Linked DNA regions of Homo sapiens. The protein of the gene in region 2 interacts with the protein of the main gene of each other region in a pairwise test. Each region holds a gene or a part of one and is shown on either strand. Other genes may lie near its edges.

Region 1 (3,827 bases), on a different chromosome or scaffold from region 2:
CACGTTGACATTTTCATTAGTCTGAAGGAGTTTCTTACTGCCACTACAAAAGATAGCAACAGCCAGGATCCAGGCAGTCATGCCCTAGAATATTCTCTCTCTGTTATTGTGTATGGAGGAAAAAGGAAGCATAGTACTGTCTGGTTGTGTGGCCTCTTCAACAAGGAAGAAAGTGATAAACAGCATTGGTAGGGAGGAGATGATTTGAGAACAGGTGGTGTGGCAAAAGCAATGGACAGACAAGAAGCAACGTATAGACAAGGTGATCATGGGGTCCATGGAACACAATCCTAAATTAGCATAACTATGGGAATGAGATGAAAGGTGCTGGTCTAACAGACTGAAGCTGTAGTCTGCTGAGCAACACTCCCAGGTCTCCACAGAGTAGCATTTTTATTGCAGTATGTCTTTCATGGAAAATGGACAAAACTTTAAATAAATCACAATTACTTATTGCTTAGTATTTTGAATAATAAATTCTTTAGTTTATCAGTACCTCACGGCCTTCAATGTGCATTCTTCAGATAGTTTCAGTTACATATACATTCTTTCTCCTGAACAATAAATTATTCTTAAAAAAAAGAAAAGGAAAAGATACATAATTTTAAAGCAAAGAAAAACAAAAGAACATATATTTTTGACATTTATCTTAAACTTATATGAAAACAACTCTATATGTTAGATGCTTAAATATAAATAATAAAGGACATTATGTTATTTACAATGTTACATAGTAAGTTGAGAGAGTAAAAACTGACATTAACTCAAAAAGACAGTAAATGATATAAGAAAACATCCAAGTAATATACAATATGTATTTACAAAAGAATATATAATAGAACTTGTGATATGTGGCCATTTCCTTCTGCCTACATTTCTCTTCAGTGTTTCATAGGTCTTCGCAGATAGAAATCTCTGGCTGGTGGAATGCAGCCAGTATTATTAATACAAGATAAGACCAGGCCTTCCTTATTTTCACCAGTGTGAGCCATGCGCCCTTTAACCCCAGGCCATAAAAAGGAATAGTTAGTGAGCAAGTTACCCTGGATAAACTTCACCTCTAACAAGACAGTCACACTGAAACAAGAAAGTGATAGCAGGTTTGGGACACATTCACCTACACAGAGGACCATTTTGTAGAAACTAGAATGCTGTCCAGGCACTCTTGGGGGCAAAAGTCACACTAGGCAGGAAGGGAAAGTAAGATAGAAAGTGAATCTTAGGTGAAACAAAAGGAGTTTTGCATGTATTTGCATGTATTATGCTCCACTGCATACACCTCAGTGGGATACGATTTTAGACCCGGGAAACAAAGTTGCTGTCAAACTCCTGGGCAATTTCTACTACCTTAAAACCTAAGATAGCTTTCCATATGCTGGGAACATAAGTTCACACTCCGATCGCCACTGCACTGTCGGAATTTATTAACAGAGGTGGTCAAGAGTGATGTGACAAGCATCACAGAGATACCCCTGTAAACACAAATCTAGTGGCCTTGGCAGGTGATGCTGAGCAGTCAGCTGGCCTTTTTTATGAAGGGTGCAAAGGATGTCCCAACTATAATAATATGCCACCTCTGTGAGTGATCAGAATCAAGTTAGAAATACAATTTCCTCTTGTCTTCAATTTTCATATATATTTGCAATTTTAAAATGCATAGCAATTCTCATTGTAAGAAACATGTTGCTCATGGTTCTCAACAGAAACTTCTATTTATTCTTAAAATTCTTCCACAATGGGATATCTGAGTACCCCAATGCCCAAAGAATTTGAAACAGAATTTTTAGGGTTTTAAATTCATGGTAGGAATTTCTTCATTGAAATAGCTAAGGATGAGTCAAGGCCTTCAAAGGCAATGTTAAAATAATTTAGAGAACTTCATTGGACTGACTGTCTTCTTCCCCATGCCGTGAGCTTACTCATTACTGCAGAATTGGAAAATCAGTGCAACCTGACAAAGACTCCTCAGTGTAGGTTAAAAAGCAAATGAGGATACCACTGTGCACAGAGAAAGTGGCATGTGAACAGTGACGAAAAATTTGAGATACCAAATACTAACAATAACTTCAAGAACCTGCAGACAGGCATCTCTGTGGATTGTAGGAGCATGTGGGAGGGTAACAACATGACTCATGCCCAGCCTGCATTTTTCTGCTAAGACCTACTTGCATGTCATTTCTTCTTTTTAATTGTTAACATCAAGATTTGGTGAAGAAATACATTCAGTTCACCCGCAAAAAAGAAGCAATTACTCTCACTGACTTCATGAATCCCCCGATAACCTGTTTCCCATTTGTCCCATGGTTCCTAGGAGGCCATGTGAATCCTAAGTAAAGCTCCAGCCCTGATTTCACAGATATCAGGCAGGCCATGAAATGGGTTCTGTGTTTCAAATAATTTTTTTTCTTCCATTTTCCTGAATTAGCAGTTATTTCAAATGTTAATACTTATAGGCCTTCCTTTGGATTTACCATCACAAAAGAACATGCAATGCTTAGACCAATCTTAGTCCTACTTTATGACAGTAAAGCAAAAATTAAAGGAGGTGGGGGAAATGGGTGAGAGAGCCTGTAAATGGAGAGGTCAGGACACAGGTGGGGGTCACTTCTGCAAGTAAAGGTGCAATCTTTCCAACAGGATTGACATTTCCTGATGAATCATTACTTGTGATTACAAATCACATACACATCGGCCATTCCTGATAAAAAATGTTCATGCATAGTTATGACCTGATCAAGGCAACATGGAAAGATAAAAGAAAAATAAGGGGGAGAAAGGGGTGGTCATCCACATTTTAAAATTTCAACGGAGTCACTAAGCTTCTCTCCACCTATACAGTCACTCCTTCTGAACACTCTACGATGGAAATACTTCCCTATGATGACAAGTCATCGCTATGTACAGCAGGCACGTTTGACTCTAGAAGTATTTCAGACAAAATGCTGCATGTGCTGTCTGGGCTGGGCTTTTTGTGCCGTAATATGCTTCTTTTTGAGCCAAGAAGACACAACCAATCACTAGCTTCAAAATCAGTGAAAAATACATGTCAGAAATGATTGCACCTTTATCAGCCGTGTTTTGATTGTCAACTAGATAAGCTGCTGGATCATTCCCCCAGAGAGAAAGTGACACTCAGTCCTCTTGTAAGGTGTTAGATTTACCCTGATAGCAAGCCAGAACCCATTTTCTAAGCTATCCCTAAAACTGTTGCTTTTTGTCAAGAAAAATAAAATCAAATAAAGTAAATGAGAGCTCCTTTTAGTAAGAGCAAGCTGTCTTCTGATTAATAATATAGTTTTTTTTAAATCACAGTATTACTTTCTTCCTAATATTTAACATTACTTAATGCAGTTTCTTGCTGTATTTAATAGTAGCATGCTGTTGGATCTACTATTATCTCAGAGCCCAATGAGGCAAACCTTTGGCTGGCAGAGTAGACACAACTCATTTCATATTCTGAAAGCAAAGAAAACTTCATACACAAGAGAGGCATATCTGGATGGATGTGCCATTACAAGACATACTGATCGGGTGCTACTACAAGCAAACAGAGGGACAGTTGCAAGTCTTGCAAATCATACATCCAGTCAACATCATAATGCAATGCACAAGAAGCCAGCAAAAACTGAATCTATGAGAGGTTTTGCAGAAATACTGTGGAAAAGCAATCACTGTAACTGTACAAAACTTGCTCTCGACATAACATAACATAAAGGCACCATTGATATCTTTCTCGTTTTGAAATACTGTAAAAAATTGCTACATATGGCACATAACACATTTTTACATACATATATTTAATTTATAAAAGTTTTTTTCCTGTTTTC
Region 2 (3,293 bases):
AATTTGGATGTGAACTTGGCGGTTTGCACATCTTTCTAAAGACAGGGACCTCATTTTTAATTAATTTTCGTTATAGCTGAGATCTCCCCAAAGGGTAAGACTTACTGGCTGACATGGAGTGCAACCTGGTGGTGGGGCAAGGCAGTGAGGCGCTCAGCACTCACAGTGAGGTGGAGCTGGGAGTTGTGGTGTAGGGAACTAGGATGGGGTGTCCATTCATTTTGAAAGCAGGACCCCAGCCAGTAAGTGGAGATGGGGAAAGGGACACATAAAAGAGGCAAGGCTGTATCAAAACAGGCTGAGGGTCTAGGCAAGGTGCCACGCCTAAGGGGACTGGGGTGTTTTTGGGCTATGATCAGGTTTAGGCTCTGTCTAGCTTGGGGGTCATCTGGGTGATCTCCCCAGGCATAAGACAGCAAGATTATGTGCAGACACCCCTTGCCCTCATTTCCTTAACCTTACCCTCTGTGACCATCAGTTCCATGCCAGGGCTGCTCTTAGCAGCATGTTAGACCTCTACCTCCCAAATTGCTCTTCCGGCGAAAGGATGGTTTCAGACTTCCACTCTGATCACAGCTGCCCACCACTCCTGCAGGTTTTCCCCACACTTTTTTGATCTCATCAAGGCCTCCAATCTGCTGACTCCCCTTTTTCTCCCTTCCCATCAGTCCAGGCCTCCAATCAACTGATTCCCCTTTTTCTCTCTTCCCATCAGCTTCTCCTGTCCACACTTCTCTCCCTACCTAACATGGGTTTGGAGCCCATCACTTCAACTACTCACTTATTTTTTTAAATAGAGACAAGGTCTCACTATGTTTCCCTGGCCGGTATCGAACTCCTGGACTCAAGCGATCCTCCTGCCTCAGCCTCCCAAAGTGCTGAGATTACAGTCGTGAGCCACCGCACCTGGCTCACTCACTTCTTTGTTCCATTATCCTTCTAGTGTACCTGATGGGCAAAATTTGAACTCTGGATGAACCCAACTGCCCATGGTCAGCATCAAGGTGTGACAAATTGTGGAATCATTCTGCTCAGTGCCACTGAGACTCTAGTCTCTCAGCACTGCCTGGCAACCTTTGCAATGGTCAGCTTGCTCTCCATAGTAACTCCTTCTCCCTCACTTTCAGCAGATGTCCTCATCTTCCACTCTTTCAGAGAGGAATTCCCTTCACTTTCCATCACCAAGTCTATATATCCATATGGATTTTTGCCCATCCTCATCTTTTGCAAGGATATCTGCAACAGCTTTCTAAATGTTTTTCCTACTCACTCCTCTCCCTGCAGTCCATTCTTCATATTGGAGCCAGGGTAATCTTTTACAAACAAAAATCTGATCGTGTCACCCAATCTACAGCATTCCAGTTAATTGATTACATAAACAGTTATGGAATACATAACATATAATATGTTCTAGCACTGTGCCCAGGCACTTGGGATATAGCTAGTGAACAAAATTCCTCTATGTAAAACCCTACACTGACTTTCTCTTCCTCATAATATAAAAATAAAAATCCTTAACATGGCTTCCATCACTCCTGCCTACCTTTCAGTGTGCCACTTATCTCCTCACCCTCTTCCATTTGGCCATACAGATTTCTTTTTTTTTTTTTTTGAGGCGGAGTCTCGCTCTGTGAGACTGAAGTGCACTCCCAGGCTGGAGTGCAGTGGTGTGATCTGGGCTCACTGCAACCTCTGCCTCCTGGATTCAAGCTATCCTTTTGCCTCAGCCTCCCGAGTAACTGGGATTATAGGCATGCGCCATGGTGCCTGGGTATTTTTTGGTATTTTTAGTAGAGGTGGGGTTTCACCATGTTGACCAGGCTGGTCTTAAACTCCTGACTTCAGGTGATCCACCCCGCCTCGGCCTCCCAAAGTGCTGGGATTACAGAAGTGAGCCATTGTGCCCAGCAGGGATTTCTTTTTATTCCTTTAAGTTGCCATAGGACAGTAGCTCAAGGGAGTAGCAGGGTGGGGACATGAGCATATGTAGAGAGAAGAGAGGGAGCTAGTGGAGAGGGAATGATTTTTGAGTGATGAAGGTAGGACTGATGGAACAAAGCAATGGAGAGAGGTGGCCTGGGATCAGAAGTGCACATTGGGATGTAGGATGTTGAAGAAAGAGGGATATTTATTTCTTATGGATAGTCAGGAAAAGAAGAACAGAGAAGAGAAATTTTGAGGTGGAGAGGAGGGAAAAGGAGAGAGCTCAGTTTCTGCAAAACAGTACACAACATTTTCTGCTTGTAGGAAATTGGAGAGGGACGGAGGGGGCCAGTGCTGGAGGAGTGGAGGATGTGCAGTGAGGGGTGCTTTAGGGAGTGGAGGAGATGGGCCCAAGAGATGTTAGGTAAAGTGTCAGGGTGGACTGCAATTGTTCAGAAATTGGGGTAATAAAATCAGCCCTATTAAGACAGACCTCCCAGATTGCTAAGAAGTAATGTTGTTGAATGTTAAAGTCTTTTTACTAAGTAAGGACAGGTATGGTGTTTCCAGGGGATGCAAAAGAAAGATTGCAAAGATCATAGAAGTCCATGAAGGTGCTGAGATTAGCTCTGGGGGAATATTGTTAGCAAAAGATTGCTGAGTAGTCACTTTCATCCCAACTGTTGCTGCTATCACACTCTTTCTGCTTTTTAGACACCTGCTGTCCGTCGGGATGGATAATGCATCAGAAAAGCTGCTTTTACATCTCACTTACTTCAAAAAATTGGCAGGAGAGCCAAAAACAATGTGAAACTCTGTCTTCCAAGCTGGCCACATTCAGTGAAATTTATCCACAATCAGTAAGCATATCCTTACTCACAGACTGCAGTGGGTACTATTAGGTAAAGGGACATATGTCATCAAGTCAGGAATGGCAGTGCACACATGGCTGGGGTGGCCATTCCTTTTCCATGGAAGAAACTGAGAATCATAATACTCTTGACCTCTGAGCTTGGAAACAACCTCTGCATCTTCTCAGCACAGTGGTCCAGGCAGCCCCTAGTAACTGATTAGAGTTGGCATGAGAATGGAAACTTAACCATATCTACATTTTTTTTTTTTTGAGACAGAGTCTCACTCTGTCACCCAGGCTGGAGTGCACTTGCATAATCTCAGCTCACTGCAACCTCCGCCTCCTGGGTTCATGCAATTCTCCCGTCTCAGCCTCCTGAGTAGCTGGGACTACAGTCACATGCCACCACGCCCAGCTAATTTTTGTATTTTTAATAGAGTCGGGGTTTCACCATATTGGTCAGGCTGGTCTCTAACTCCTGGCCTCAGGTGATCCACCTGCTTCAGTCTCCCAAAGT

Evidence for each region.
Region 1: the proteins of CD72 (region 2) and NRG1 interact in binary tests that used the Homo sapiens proteins (3 or more experiments, as listed by UniProt).

The regions. Positions count from the first base shown.
Region 1 is NC_000008.11:32,764,507-32,768,333, reverse strand, and holds part of NRG1 (pro-neuregulin-1, membrane-bound isoform isoform HRG-alpha proprotein), read right to left. Parts: 3' UTR 1-3,827. UniProt on the Homo sapiens protein: Direct ligand for ERBB3 and ERBB4 tyrosine kinase receptors. Concomitantly recruits ERBB1 and ERBB2 coreceptors, resulting in ligand-stimulated tyrosine phosphorylation and activation of the ERBB receptors.
Region 2 is NC_000009.12:35,612,338-35,615,630, reverse strand, and holds part of CD72 (B-cell differentiation antigen CD72), read left to right. Parts: intron 1-2,637; coding exon 2,638-2,783; intron 2,784-3,293. UniProt on the Homo sapiens protein: Co-receptor of B cell receptor (BCR) that plays both positive and negative roles on B-cell functions. Recognizes the Sm/ribonucleoprotein (RNP) self-antigen ligand, and coligation of CD72 and BCR inhibits BCR signaling.